2 separate regions of the Homo sapiens genome follow, and region 1 is linked to region 2. A link means that fine-mapping ties the variant in region 2 to the expression of a gene that starts in the linked region. Tissue or cell type: testis. Region 2 holds a variant in brackets; the other region holds the start of a gene. All regions are shown on one strand. Distances are from middle to middle.

What was found. PIP is the estimated chance that this variant, and not a neighbour inherited with it, causes the effect. A credible set is the group of variants that fine-mapping cannot tell apart.
Region 1: LINC00452 starts here. The variant in region 2 is the best candidate, but not a certain one, in a credible set for the expression of LINC00452 in testis (GTEx, PIP 0.52).

Annotation. Positions count from the first base shown.
Region 1 is chr13:113,891,704-113,898,260 of GRCh38, reverse strand. It overlaps LINC00452 (long intergenic non-protein coding RNA 452), which reads right to left and starts at 3,158. Exons shown (of 8, transcript NR_164112.1): 1 at 3,012-3,158.
Region 2 is chr13:113,934,119-113,940,675 of GRCh38, reverse strand. It overlaps a transcript of C13orf46 not described here. Among named protein-coding and RNA genes, the nearest start is that of SWINGN, 8.4 kb to the right of the region's middle. RefSeq lists enhancers at 3,701-4,182, 4,183-4,684. The variant C/T (reference allele first, on the strand shown) is at 3,386.

The sequences.
Region 1 (6,557 bases), 42 kb after region 2:
TCCTCCCAGTCCAGATTCCTCAGCTTCACTGGACAGACAGGCTCACCTTTGGAAACGCCACAAAAATCCACTTGTGCTATTTGTGTTGGTTTATTACTAAATGGACATGTGATTTATTTGGCATAGCAACTCTGCCTTTTCCCAAGAGGTTCCCTGCTTGGGGTATTATCTCAGATGGAGGGCTGAGGCTGTCTGGTCCCATCCTGGTGAGTGGTGGGCGAAGAGACGTGGTGTCCAAACCACATCACAAGTACTGGAAGGGGGTGTTAAAATCTCTGTCCACATTGGAAATTAATAAAACATATTATTCCCCACAGATAGGTTGCAAAGCCCTGGTCTACAAGGTCAGGGACCTTTTTCTGTGGGCCCAGCACTGTCCACAGCCTGAGAGCAGAGAGAACAGAGAACAGGTGAAGCAGCTGTGACTAATGAACCTGCCCTGCCTTCTCCTCTAGGGCAATGGAGATAGGCCCAGGGTGTCCTTTGGCTTTAGCCAAGCTCTACCATGCAGACAGTAAGACAAGAGCAGAGCTGCAACAACCACCAGGCCCATGATATGCCCCCAGCCACCCCACAGAGAATCCACTATTAATACCATGTTACTCGCCCTATCAATCCCACATTACCCCATCATCAATCCTACTAGCTATAGACCACTAAGCTCAAGGGTCTGTCGCCACCTCTTGCCACAGTCAGTGTCCATGAACAGTGTCTGCAGGGCTGCTCTCTCAGGGCTCTGAAGAGAAGCCAATGGTGGAAACCTGGATGTTGGCAGACATGGCTCATGGCAGTGGGCATCTCCCCATTTCAACCTCACATATTTTTCACATGGTTCAGGAACCACAGAGCATTCCAGCCGTTCATAGACACGGACATGATGTCAGTATTTCCTGCTGACCTTCCTCTGTGGAATGTGAGGGCTCCTGCCCCGTGGGCCCCAGTTGGGAGCAGCACTCCTGGTCCATCTGCCAAGCCAACTGCTTTTCCTCCTTCTCACCTCTCTGCAAAGCATACTTTCGCCACCACAAAAGGGGAGCATAAAAGGAAGGAATGTACCAGCCACATGCCAACTCTTACTCTCCCTCTTTGCAGCATAAACCTTCCGATTTCTTATAACCCTTTCCCATCTAAAGCCAATTGGTGCATCTCAAATAGCAATATATGATTCTGAAATTAACAATAGAACCTTATTAGTGCAAAATGAAGCCCAGTTTGCTGTAGGCTGAGATGTTTTGAACCATCTAAGGGAGTTGAGTTATTTTAGCAGCACAAAGACATTCTCCAAAAACATGTTCTCCTGGAAGGCAGCACTAGACAAAGAGACTAATGATATCTTGTGCTGTTGGGTAATCTCAGGTGGGCCCTTAACTTTTCCAAATCACGGTCTCTCAGGAGGCTGCAGATGAGTGGGTTCCCACGGCCTCTTTTGAGCTCTGGCACTAGACAAGGTGGTTTATAATGGGAAGGGGCAAAAAGTGAGCTGTGGAGTCTATAGACTTAGTTTGAATTCTGGTGTTTCAAGTTTCCAGGGGTGTGACCTCAAAGAGCATGTTTAACTTATTCTCAGATACCCTATCTGTGAAGAGGGTATGGCAACTTAAGGGTTAATACAGAGGATTCAAAATAAAATATTTAAATGATAAATTTTTCAATAAATGATATTAGGACAATTAGTTATCCATTTTGCTAAAACAAAATTCCTCCTCTCTACTCTTTATCGCATGTATTAAAACACACTTCAGAGGATCAAAGATTTAAATGTAGGCTGGGCACAATGGCCCATACCTGTAATCCCAGAACTTTGGGAGACTGAGGCAGGAGGATTGCTTGAGGCCAGGAGTTTGAGACCAGCTTGGGCAACCTGGTGAGTCTCTACAAAAAAAAGAAATAAAAAATTGGGGGCTGTAGAGAAAAAAAATTAAAAAATTAAAAATTTCACTGGGCATGGTGGTGCATGCCTGTAGTCCAAGCTACTCAGGAGGCTGAAGTGAGAAGATTACTTGAGCCCAAGAATTTGAGCCAGGGGTGAGCTATGATTGTACCACTGCACTCCAGCTTGAGTGACACAGCAAGACCTGGTCACACACACACACACACATACACAAATTAAAATTAAATTTAATAAGTTTTTTTTAAAAAAGATTTAAATGTGAAAGAAGAAAGAGGGCACTCCCTCTGTGGTCGCCACTGGCTCTCAGAAGTAGTGCGTGAGCAGGAGGCTCCACTCTGATCCAGGAGCACTGGCATCTATGAAGAGGGAAACCAAGAAAAAATTCTTTCTGCTATCTTTCCTTTCAGTAATGCTTATCTTAAGAACACTCAACTGGAAAACCACTCCACCTAAAAGTAGGAAAGATGGCAATTCTAAATAGCAACTATTATCCCAGGGAGACCCCTCAGATATGTGAGGAATCAAGCCATAAATGTGCATTTGCTGGACATTATATACCACGTCATCTCTATGACTACAGATTTTAAGGATAATTTTTACTCACTTAACAATTTCACTGTAACAGTGACTGATAATGTGAAAATGTGCTTTATACAGTGCTGCTGATGGGTACACAGACAAGTTCTTGCTGCAATTATTTCTAAATCTAGCCAGATCCCAGAGTCATGAAGATATAAGCTCTGTGAGACCAGGGACCATCTCTCTTTCTTGCATCATAGGCACACTTGATAAATACTCATGGCTGGAAAAAAAAAAAAAGAGGGAAAGATAGAGAAAAGGAGGGCAGGACAAAGAAAAGGAAAAGAAAGACAGAAAGTAATAGAAAGCAAAGGTGCATATTTTTATAATCTTAGAATGAAGAAGACCACTCAGGAAAATCTTAACACCTCTCTGGATAAAAAATTCAGAAGGCACTGCAAAAAACAAAGCTAATAAAATATGTTTACACTTTTAAACTCTTTGTGGGAAAAAAACATGGTAAATAAAAGAAAAACTGGGGGCTGGGAGTTTTCAATTCACTTACAAAGAGTTGATTTCCATAACTACAAAGCATGCTTACCAATTAAAAAGTAGAGAACAGGACCCAACTTTTGGTAATGGCAGAATAGCCCCCACTGAACCAACCTTTCCACAGGTAACAGCTATAAACTTTAGGTAAAATATGGGGGGAAAACCTGCTTAAAAGCACTGGAGTGTGATAGAAGCAGGCAAACACTGGAGTTCTTGTGGTGATGGAAATGTCCTGTGCTTCAACTGCACTAATGTTTGTGTCCTGATTGTGATGTTGCTCTGTAGCTTTGTGAGTTGACATTGGGGGAGGCTGGGTGAAGAGGACACAGGATTTCTGTGTTACTTCTGTGTGTGAATCTACATATACTTCAAAGTAAAGTGTAATTTTTAAAAAGTCAATTTATGGCTAGGCATGGTGGCTCACGCCTGTAATCCCAGCACTTTGGGAGGCTGAGGCTGGTGGATCACAAGGTCAGGAGATCAAGACCATCCTGGCTAACATGGCGAAACCCCGTCTCTACTAAAAATACAAAAAATTAGCCAGGTGTGGTGACAGGCACCTGTAGTCCCAGCTGCTTGGGAGGCTGAGGCAGGAGAATGGCGTGAACCCGGGAGGCGGAGCTTGCAGTGAGCTGAGATCACTCTACTGCACTCCAGCCTGGGCAACAGAGCCAGACTCCATCTCAAAAAAAAAAAAAAAAAAAAAAAAGTCAATTTATGTAATTTATATGATTAGAAAATAAAGGATTAATTCTAATCATCAACAGATGTATAACAAACATTTGAAAATCAACAACCATTAATGATTAAAGAAAAAACCCAGGAAGCTTGAAATAGAAGGAAATTATCTCATACTGATAAAGAACATTCTTAAAAACCTAGAGTGAACATAAATATCAGTTTCCTCTTAAGATAGGAAACAAGGCAAGATTGACCATTCTAACCATTTCTTTCCACCATTGTCCTAGAGGGCATGGTTGGTGCAATATGACAAGAAAGAAAGCCAGATAAACAAAAACCTCACAGCAAAGGCTGAAGGTCTGTTTACCTCAGCTTCTTCGGTCTAACACATCATGTCCAGATTTCCAGAAAAAATTACAAGGCGTGCCAAAAGGCAAAAAATACTGTCAGAAGACACAAAATGAGCATCAGAACCAGCTCAGATATGGTAGAAATTTAGGAATTATCAGATCGGGAATTTAAAATACCTATGATTAATGTGCTAAGGGCTTTAATAATAGAAAAAGTGAACAATATTAAAAAATGAATAGGTAAAATTGAAATGCAAAGAAAGTGTAAAAAGGAAATGCAAGAAATTATAAACACTGTAACAGAAGTGAAGAGTGTGTTTAATGGGTTCATCAGTGAGCTGATAAGAAAAGAATCAGCCCGATATGTGGGTCAAAGAAACCTCAAGAGAAATTAAAAAGTATTTTGAACTAAATGAAAATGAAAATGCAACCTATCAAAATTTGTGAGAATCAGTGAAAACAGAGCTTAGAGGGAAATTTACAGCATTGGATGAATATATTGGAAAAGAATAAACATCTAAAGTAAATAACTTAAAATTCCATCTTAAGAAACTAGAAAAAGAAGAGCAAATCAAATGTAAAGTAAGCAGAAAAAAATAATAAAAATCAGAGCAGAAATCAATGAAATTGAAAACAGAAAAACAATAAAGAAAATCAATGAAATCAAAATTTGGTTCTTTAAAAACATTAATAAAATTGATAAACCTTTAGTCAGACTAGTCAAGAAAAAAAAAAGAGAAGACACAAACCTCTAACATCAGAAATGATAGAGGGACATCACTATAGATCCCGTGGACATTAAAAGGATAATACATGAATATAATGAACAACTCTATGCCCAGAAATTTGATACCTAGATGAAACTGACTAGTTACTTGAAAGACACAATCTACCAAAACTCACAACAAGGAGAAATAGATTATCTTAATAGACATATTTCTTATAGAAATTGGATCGATAACTGATAATCTTCCCAAAGACAAAACACCAAGACCAGAAAGGCTTACTGGTGAATTCTACCAAACATTTAAGGAAGAAATTATACCAGTTTTCTACTATCTGCTCCAGAAAACAGAAACAGAGAGAATACTTCCTAATTCATTTTATAAGGCCAGCATTATTCTAATATCAAAATCAAAGACAGTACAAGAAAGGGAAACTAAGGACCAATATCTCTCATGAACATAGATGCAACAGTTCTCAACAAAATATTAGCAAATTAAATTCAACAATGTATAAAAAGAATTCTGCACCATGATCAAATGGGCTTTATTCCACTTACGCAAGGCTGGTTCAACATCCAAAATTAGTAGTGAAATTAATCACATCAACAGGCTAAAGAAGAAAAGTCATATGATCATATCAGTAGATGGATAAAAAACATTTGACAAAAATCCAACACCCATTCATGATACAGACTTTCAAAAAACTAGGAATAGAGAACTCCCTCAATTTGACAAAGAATATCTACAAAAACCTACAGTTAATGTCATACTTAATGGTGAGAAACTAGACACTTTTCCCCCAAGATTAGGAAAGGGCAGAGATGTTTCTTTTCACTTGCTCCTATTCAACATCATATTAAAATGCAATAAGACAAGAAAAGTAAATAAAATGTATGCAGATTAGAAGACATAAAATTTTCTTTGTTTGCAGATGACATGATTGTTCAGATAGAAAATGCCCAAGAATCAACAATTTTAAAACTCCTCCTTAAACTAATAAGTGACTATAAGAAGATTGCAGAATCCAAGGACTATAAATAAAATATCAATTGCTTTCCAATATATGAGCAATGAACAACTGAAATTTAAAATTAAAAAAAAAAACCATTTACATTAGCCCCAAGTTAAAAAAAGAAAAATATGTAGGTGCAATCTAACAAAATATGTATACGATCTATATAAGGAAAACTACAAAACTTTAATGAAATAAATTTTTAAAATCCAAGAAAATGGAGAACTATTCCATGTTCATGGATAGGAAGACTCAGTATTGTCAAGATGCCAGTTCTTCCCAACTTGCTATAGAGTCAATATATTCCATTCAAAATTCCAGCAAGTTATTTTGTGAATACCAGGAAACTGATTTTAAAGTTTATGTAGAAAGGCAAACGACCCAGAATAGCCAACACAATACTGAAGAAAAACAAAGTCACAGAACTGATACTACCTGACTTCAAGACTTACTATACAGCTATGGTAATCAAGACTATGTGGTGCTGTTGAAATAATAGACAAATGGATCATTGGAGCAGAACAGAAAGTCCAGAAAAAGACCCACACAAATATAGCCAACTGATGTTTGAAAAGAAACGAAGACAATTCAAATGAGAAATGATAGTCTTTTCAACAAATGGTGCTGGAACAACTGGATATCCACATGCAAAGTTTAAAAAGTGAAATTAGATACTGATTCTACACTTTTCACTAAAAATTTATTCAAAATGGATCATAGACCTAAACGTAAAATGTAAAACTATAAAACCCCTAGAAGATAACATAGGAGAAAATCTAGATGACCTTGGGTATGGCAATAACTTTTTAGATACAACACCAAAGGCA
Region 2 (6,557 bases):
ACCAGGGTCTCGAACGCTCAGCCTCACACACGGAGTCCCAGAGGAGACCAGGATCTCGAACGCTCAGCCTCACACATGGAGTCCCAGAGACCAGGGTCTCGAACGCTCAGCCTCACACATGGAGTCCCAGAGACCAGGGTCTCGAACGCTCAGCCTCACACATGGAGTCCCAGAGACCAGGGTCTCGAATGCCCAGCCTCACACATGGAGTCCTAGAGGAGACCAGGGTCCCAGACGCCCATCCTCACGCAGAGCCCCATAGGAAACCAGCACCTGCGTCTTCTGTCTGGGTGGCACAGGGAAAGTGCTTCCCCTGGGAATACTCGGCTGGCATCCACCCCGCCAGTGTGTGCTGCAGGCTGGCTCATCTGGGGGTGGGGGGCTTGGCGGCAGCACCGCAGGGTCTAGGGGAGCCCACCTGGCTCTGGCCTCCTGCTCTTCGCTTCCGGGGAAACGGCCCAGGCCCCTGCTGCACACTCTTCCTTCCCCTCTTCAGTAGTAAGAGGAGCCAAATGCGGCTGACGGTGCATCTGAGGCCGAGGCGCAGCCCCCGCCCCTGGGGTGGACTTTGGCCGCATGGGCAGGGCCAGGCAGGCAGGTAGCCTCTTGGGGCCTCTGAGGTGGCCCGAATGCCTCCCCTGATCACGGCTGCCACCCGGGCATCCTGGTCCCCCTGCGTCAGAGCCCACACACATGACAGACAGGAGGCTCTGGCTCAGATGAGGCCAGCGGCACTTCCTTTCATCCTGCCTGGCACCCGGTTTCTTGATGACCCAGGCCAGTGTTTTTCACGCTGAATCGTGTTTGACTTAGAAGCACATGGGATGATCCCTTTGGCCTTCCCAGCACCTCCTGAGAAGTATTGTCATCAGACCTGTGAGCATGAGATGGCGCTGGGCCCAGAGAGGTCAGTGCCCTGGCCCAGGATACACAGCGCACAGGAGGTCACTGGGAGCCTGAGTGACAACATCTCCAGGGCTGGACAGCCTCCCTGTCAGGGGTGAGAAACGGGTCTGTGCCCATTTCACGGCTAAGAACCTGGAGCAGGTCCCCCTTCAGCCCAAAGCCCAGGAGGAGGCGGCTGCTTATTGCAAAAGGTGTGAACCAGGCTGAGTGGTGCCGCCCTCCCCATCCACGTGGTCCCCATCTTTCCCATCCACGTGGTCTCTGTCCTCCCCATCAACGTGGTCCCCGTTCCCCCCGTCCAGGTGGCCCCCATCTTCCCAGTTGGGTGATCCCCGTGTTCCCCGTTGGGTGGTCTGCGTCCTCCCCATCGGGTGGTCTCTGTCCTCCCCATCGGGTGGTCTGCATCCTCCCCATCGGGTGGTCTCTGTCCTCCCCATCGGGTGGTCCCCTTCTGGCTCTGGGTTGCCTGCATCTTGCAGCTCCACACTCCGGAACATGTGGCTTCTGGCATCACCGGGGCGGGGGGAAGGGGCCAGCTGCAGCCCTTGGCTGGAACGTGTCAGGCAGCCAAGCCTATGTGCAAAGGGCCGGGACCTGAAGGAGTGAGAAGCCGGACGCTGTTGTCCCTGACCCTGAGCTGAGCAAGTTCCACTGAGGCCACAGAGATGAGTCCGACCTGAATTCTGCCCTCCCGGAGTTTACAACAGGGTGAAAGGCACCTGGCGGGTCTGGAATGCCAGCTTGGAAGGGATCGTGGGAGGAGCTGGCTGAGGAAACGTGGGCCTGGGGTGGGGGTGGCTGGGTTCCCAGGGAGGCCGCAGGTGCTGTGGTGTGCACAGCAGGGCCTGAGCCTCCTGGGGCCAGGAGGCTTCCTGGGCGTGAGGCCCAAGCTGAGTTTTCCATAGGGATTGAGAGTGAGTGAAGGCTGTTTGGAAGGACGTGCTGGGCAGTGGGAAGTTTGAGCAAAACCTGGAGACAGGAAAGAGCTGTGTGTTGAGAGAAGCTACAGCTGGTGCAGTGTTTCTGGAATGGAAAGTTCACGGCGGACGTGTGGAAGGGAGCGACTCCCAGTGGTGGGCACAGCAAGGGCCCCTCCCAAAGACGTCGGAGGCTGAACCCCCAGGACGCTTGAACAGGGCAACCTTGCAGGGGGAACTAGGTTAGGAATCCCAAGTCGGGAGATAGCCTTGGATTATTCGGTGGGTGCTCCTGGAGTTTAGGGAGGATGGAGAGGCTGCTGGACCCAGCGTAAGGTCTGGGCTCCTTAGAGGCAGGTGGGCGGGTCAAAGAGAGAGCAATTTGAAGATGCTGGGTTTGAAGATGGGCCGTGGGCCAAGGCTGCTGCCGTCTCTGGAGGCTGAGAAAAGAAAGCAGTGGCTTCTCCACCAGGCTCCTGCCAGCCCTGCCTTCAGCACCCTGAGGCCCTTTTCACACTTTCCCCTCCAGGACTGTAAGATAATACATTTGAGCTGTTGGAAGCCACTAGGTTTGTGGTAATCTGTTAAAGCAGCAGATAGGAACCTCATAGACTCACTATTGAGAAAAGAAAAGCACTTTTATCTGAGGAGCAAGTCCTTTTAATTATTGGGTCCAGAGAGGCGTTCAGTTGAGGCCGCAACCACATCCCACTCCCCCTTTGAGCTGCATGTTCATCTTGTGAAAGGAAAATCATTCTCGGGACCCCAGATCGCTGAGCCTAAGAGAAAAGTCCAGCTGGGAACTGTGCCAGGCAAACCTGCCTCCCATTCTATTCCTGAGTAAGGGAACTACAAAGATTTTAAAAAGCTACACGCCTGCCTCACGATTTGCCCACAAAGAAATTCCTTGTGGACAAAGCACAGACAGAACTCAAAGTCACCCCACTGCTCCCGTGAGACAAACGCACACAGCTGATCACTTCCTCTGCCCTCATTTCACTGAGCCAGACTCAGGCATGAGTGACCATTCCTGTAAATTGTGCATTCCGTAAAAGGCTAATCAGAAACTCAGGAGTGCAACCGTTTGTCTCTTATCTACCTACGACCTGGAAGCCTCCTCCCTGCTTCCATCTGTCCCGCCTTTCCGGACCGAACCAGCGTTCATCCGATGTATGTTGATGTCTCATGTCTCCCTAAAATATGTAAAACCAAACTCTGCGCCGACCACCTCAGGCATGTTGTCAGGACCTCCGGAGGCTGTGTCACAGGTGCGTCCTGAACTTTGGCAAAATAAACTTCCTAAATTGACTGAGCCTTATCTCAGACGCCTTTTGGTTTACAACGCTACTGAGATGTTCATCTCACCTGCAGCTGTGTATGAGAAGAGGTCGTGGCTGCATCTGGATTCGGAAAGACCCCAGTGCTAATGATTGTTACCATAACCAAGGGAAAGGACTCTAACCTGTGCGGGTTTACGGCTGCCTTCTCGGCAAGCTTGAGATTGTAGGAGCCATACGTGGCCACGATGTGGACTGCACTCTGGCTGGTGGCTGTGGCGTGAC[C/T]ACGGTCACTGCACAGTCACTTGGATCCCTGGGAGGAGAGTCCTGTAGCCTCGGACCGGGGATGCCACAGGCATGAACCCACCTTTGCAAAAATTATAACAGTGGAAAAATTATGGCAGTGAAAGAGACCCGAGGTAACCAACTCCCATCTTGCCTTTAGCCTTCAAACTGCCCTTAATTATTCCTGGGCTTGGGCCAAGCTAACTCTGGGAGACATTTAGTTTATAGCTTAAATGATAATAACCCTTCCGCAAAACTCAACAGCCTTTGTAAAGCTATTGAGAGACCACTAGGCTACGAGGACGAGAGGAGCCTGAATTCTGCTAAAATGGAGACACAAAGGATTACCCCCCTTTATTCTGGAGCTCAAAATATGCAACTTCCCAACTACTCCCGCAGATAACGTCACTACGGTGGAACCTAAGACTGGCCTTTGAGATGTCTTTTCAGGTTTTTTGCAAGTCTGACAACTGATTTCCCCCCCTGGACCGGTCAGCCTCCCTGGTGCCACCCAGAAGCGACTCGGGGCACAAGGACCATTTCCCACACCCCGACGACTGCACCCCCAACCAGTCAGCAGCAAGCGCCCTTGCCTACCCACCCGACTCTCTTCCCCTAAACTAGCCTTGAGAGACCCTGGTCTCTGCATTTTCAGGGAGGCTGATGTGAGTAACAATAAAACTCTAGTGTCCTGTTTAGCCGGCTCTGCGTGTGTAAAACTGTTTCTCTATTGCAGCTCTCGCCACTGGCCAGGAAACGGTTTCCCCCTCCTCGGGCTGTGCTGGGAGGAAGGGTCTGAAGTGGCTTGTAATGTCGGAAGCAAAGTGGAGGACTTGCCCGGAAGAGGGAGGAAGGCCTTGGCTCCTTTGAGCCAGTGGGAATGGAAGGGAAGGCGGCCAGGATTTCCTCAAAAATATTTCCCCATAGCCGGTCAGCTCCCCACGGGGCCAATACCGCATCCTCACTCTGGGCGCAAGGACGGCCCCTTCCCAGAGCCCATTTAGAACTTGGATGAATGTTCTATCAACACTCATGGATGTTGCCTGGATGAATGGGCTCTATCCGGGCCTTGAGTAGGAAGAAGCCGCTGGCAGTTACTTGCTCACCCAGAGACTCCAAGCAGCCACACTCACCTGGGCTGATGACTCAATTGACTCCTGAGTTTCTCCGGCTCTTCATTGAGGTCTGTCTTTTCCACCTCCATCTTTGAGCCTCTGAACTTGATGAAAATCGGTTACATGTAGATGGCTTTTCTGTCCAATGCTAGAGAACTTTGAACTTAATGGAATCCTGCCGTCTTTTCATCAACTCAGTGCTAAACAACTCTAGATTTTAAAATGATATCCAGTGTGACTGCGTCCATTTCACATGGCACAAGGATTGTCTGTGATCACGATTCATAAAGCTGCTATTTTTTAGCTGACACTAGGCCCAAGCATGGCCCCTGGGGGCACAGGGCTGTTTATTTCTCTTTTAAAGCACCCTAATCTGGGAGGTGTATTTTGCCGGTGGCTGGCGGGCTGGGAGCAGAGAAAAGTTCAGTGTAAAAATGAAAATGCATTCCCGGCAGGAAAACTCCCACCCTAAGGGCACGTATGCAGTTTACCCCAAAACAATGGTTGCCGTGGGTAACCCGAGTGGTGTTGCCAGTGGCTGCCAGTTTGGCCCTTCCAGGGAGATGTCAAGAGACCCCTTCTACCAATCCCTTTCCTCATTAAAGAGGAAGAATGTTTGCTTTCTGGGAGATATTTAAGAGGACAATTTGAAATCCCACAAAAGCCAGGGTTGGTAGAATCAGGACTTGGCTCAGCCCAGCTCAGCCCCGCAGCAGCTACCCCGGGCTCTGTTTGTCCTGGCTTCCACCAGGGCCAGCGCTTCACAGCCGGAAGCAAACAGGCCAAGCATTTCTTGGTTAATAGCACAAGGGGGCCAGGCTTGCTGGAGAAGCAGCGGTCAGGGCCAGGGGCCCCTAACCTCTGCAGTCGCCCCTCCCAGTGGCTTTCCAGAGCTGTTTTCCACCTCTCCCTGAGGAGCTGAAGGGCGCCGGGGGCCGAGTCACTGCCACAGCCGCAGGGACCAAGCCCCATCCCAGCAAGGCTGAGGCCTCAGGAAGGCGGCCAGCCCAGGCCCTCTCGCCACTGGCCAGGAAACTGTTCCCCCCCTCGGGCTGTGCTGGGAGGAAGGGTCTGAAGTGGCTTGTAACGTCGGAAGCAAAATGGAGAACTTGCCCAGAAGAGGGAGGAATGCCTTGGCTCCTTTGAGCCAGTGGGAATGGAAGGGAAGAAGGCCAGGATTTCCTCAAAAATATTTCCCTGTAGCCAGTCAGCTCCCCACAGGGCCAATACCTCGTCCTCACTCCGGGTGCAAGGACAGCCCCTTCCCAGAGCCCGTTTAGAACTTGCTTCTCTTCAGACTACATTCCCTCCTGGCTGGATTCTGGAGACCATAACTGGGGCACCTACCAAGTGGGGCCCGTTAGAGGTGCTGGCGGAGTTCCCGTGTGACCCCATCAGGGTGGCTCACAGCACATCTCCGCAGCGACACGCTCAGGTCTGGTTTTCCAGTGTGTATGCGTGGAGCCCAGCAGTGGGGCCCAGATGGCGTGGTGAGGATCACCACTGAAAGGCAGGCCTCGAGCACTTGCCCAGAGTCCACTGTTTGGAGGGCAGTTCGATTCACCGTAGCCAATTAGCCCACAGCACACACAATCTTTCTTTTCCCATTGAGTTGTCTTGGCACCTTGGTTGGAAAGTAATTTACCATGTATGTGTGGGTCTATTTCCTTTATTTGAAAGTGATTTTTAAAAGGAAAATTGCAAGACCCCTTCTTCTAATTGTGGCCCCACACCCTTGCCCATGCATCCGACTCATCTCCATCCATCCTGTGTGTCTGGTAGTTTCATAAAAAGTCAAACACATACCTGCCATTATGACCCAGCGATTGTACTCCTGGGCATTTATCGCAGAGAAATTAAAATGTATAGTCACACAAACGATCATAGCAGCTTTATTTGGAACAGCGAAAACCTGGGAACAGCCCCATTGTCTGTCAGCAGGTGCGTGTCCGACGCATCGTGGTGCCTCCACACCACACAACGTGCTCAGCAACGGAGAGAAACAGACTCTGGGAGAAAACTCCATCTCAAAGGCTGCATTCCGCACTCCGTTCCCA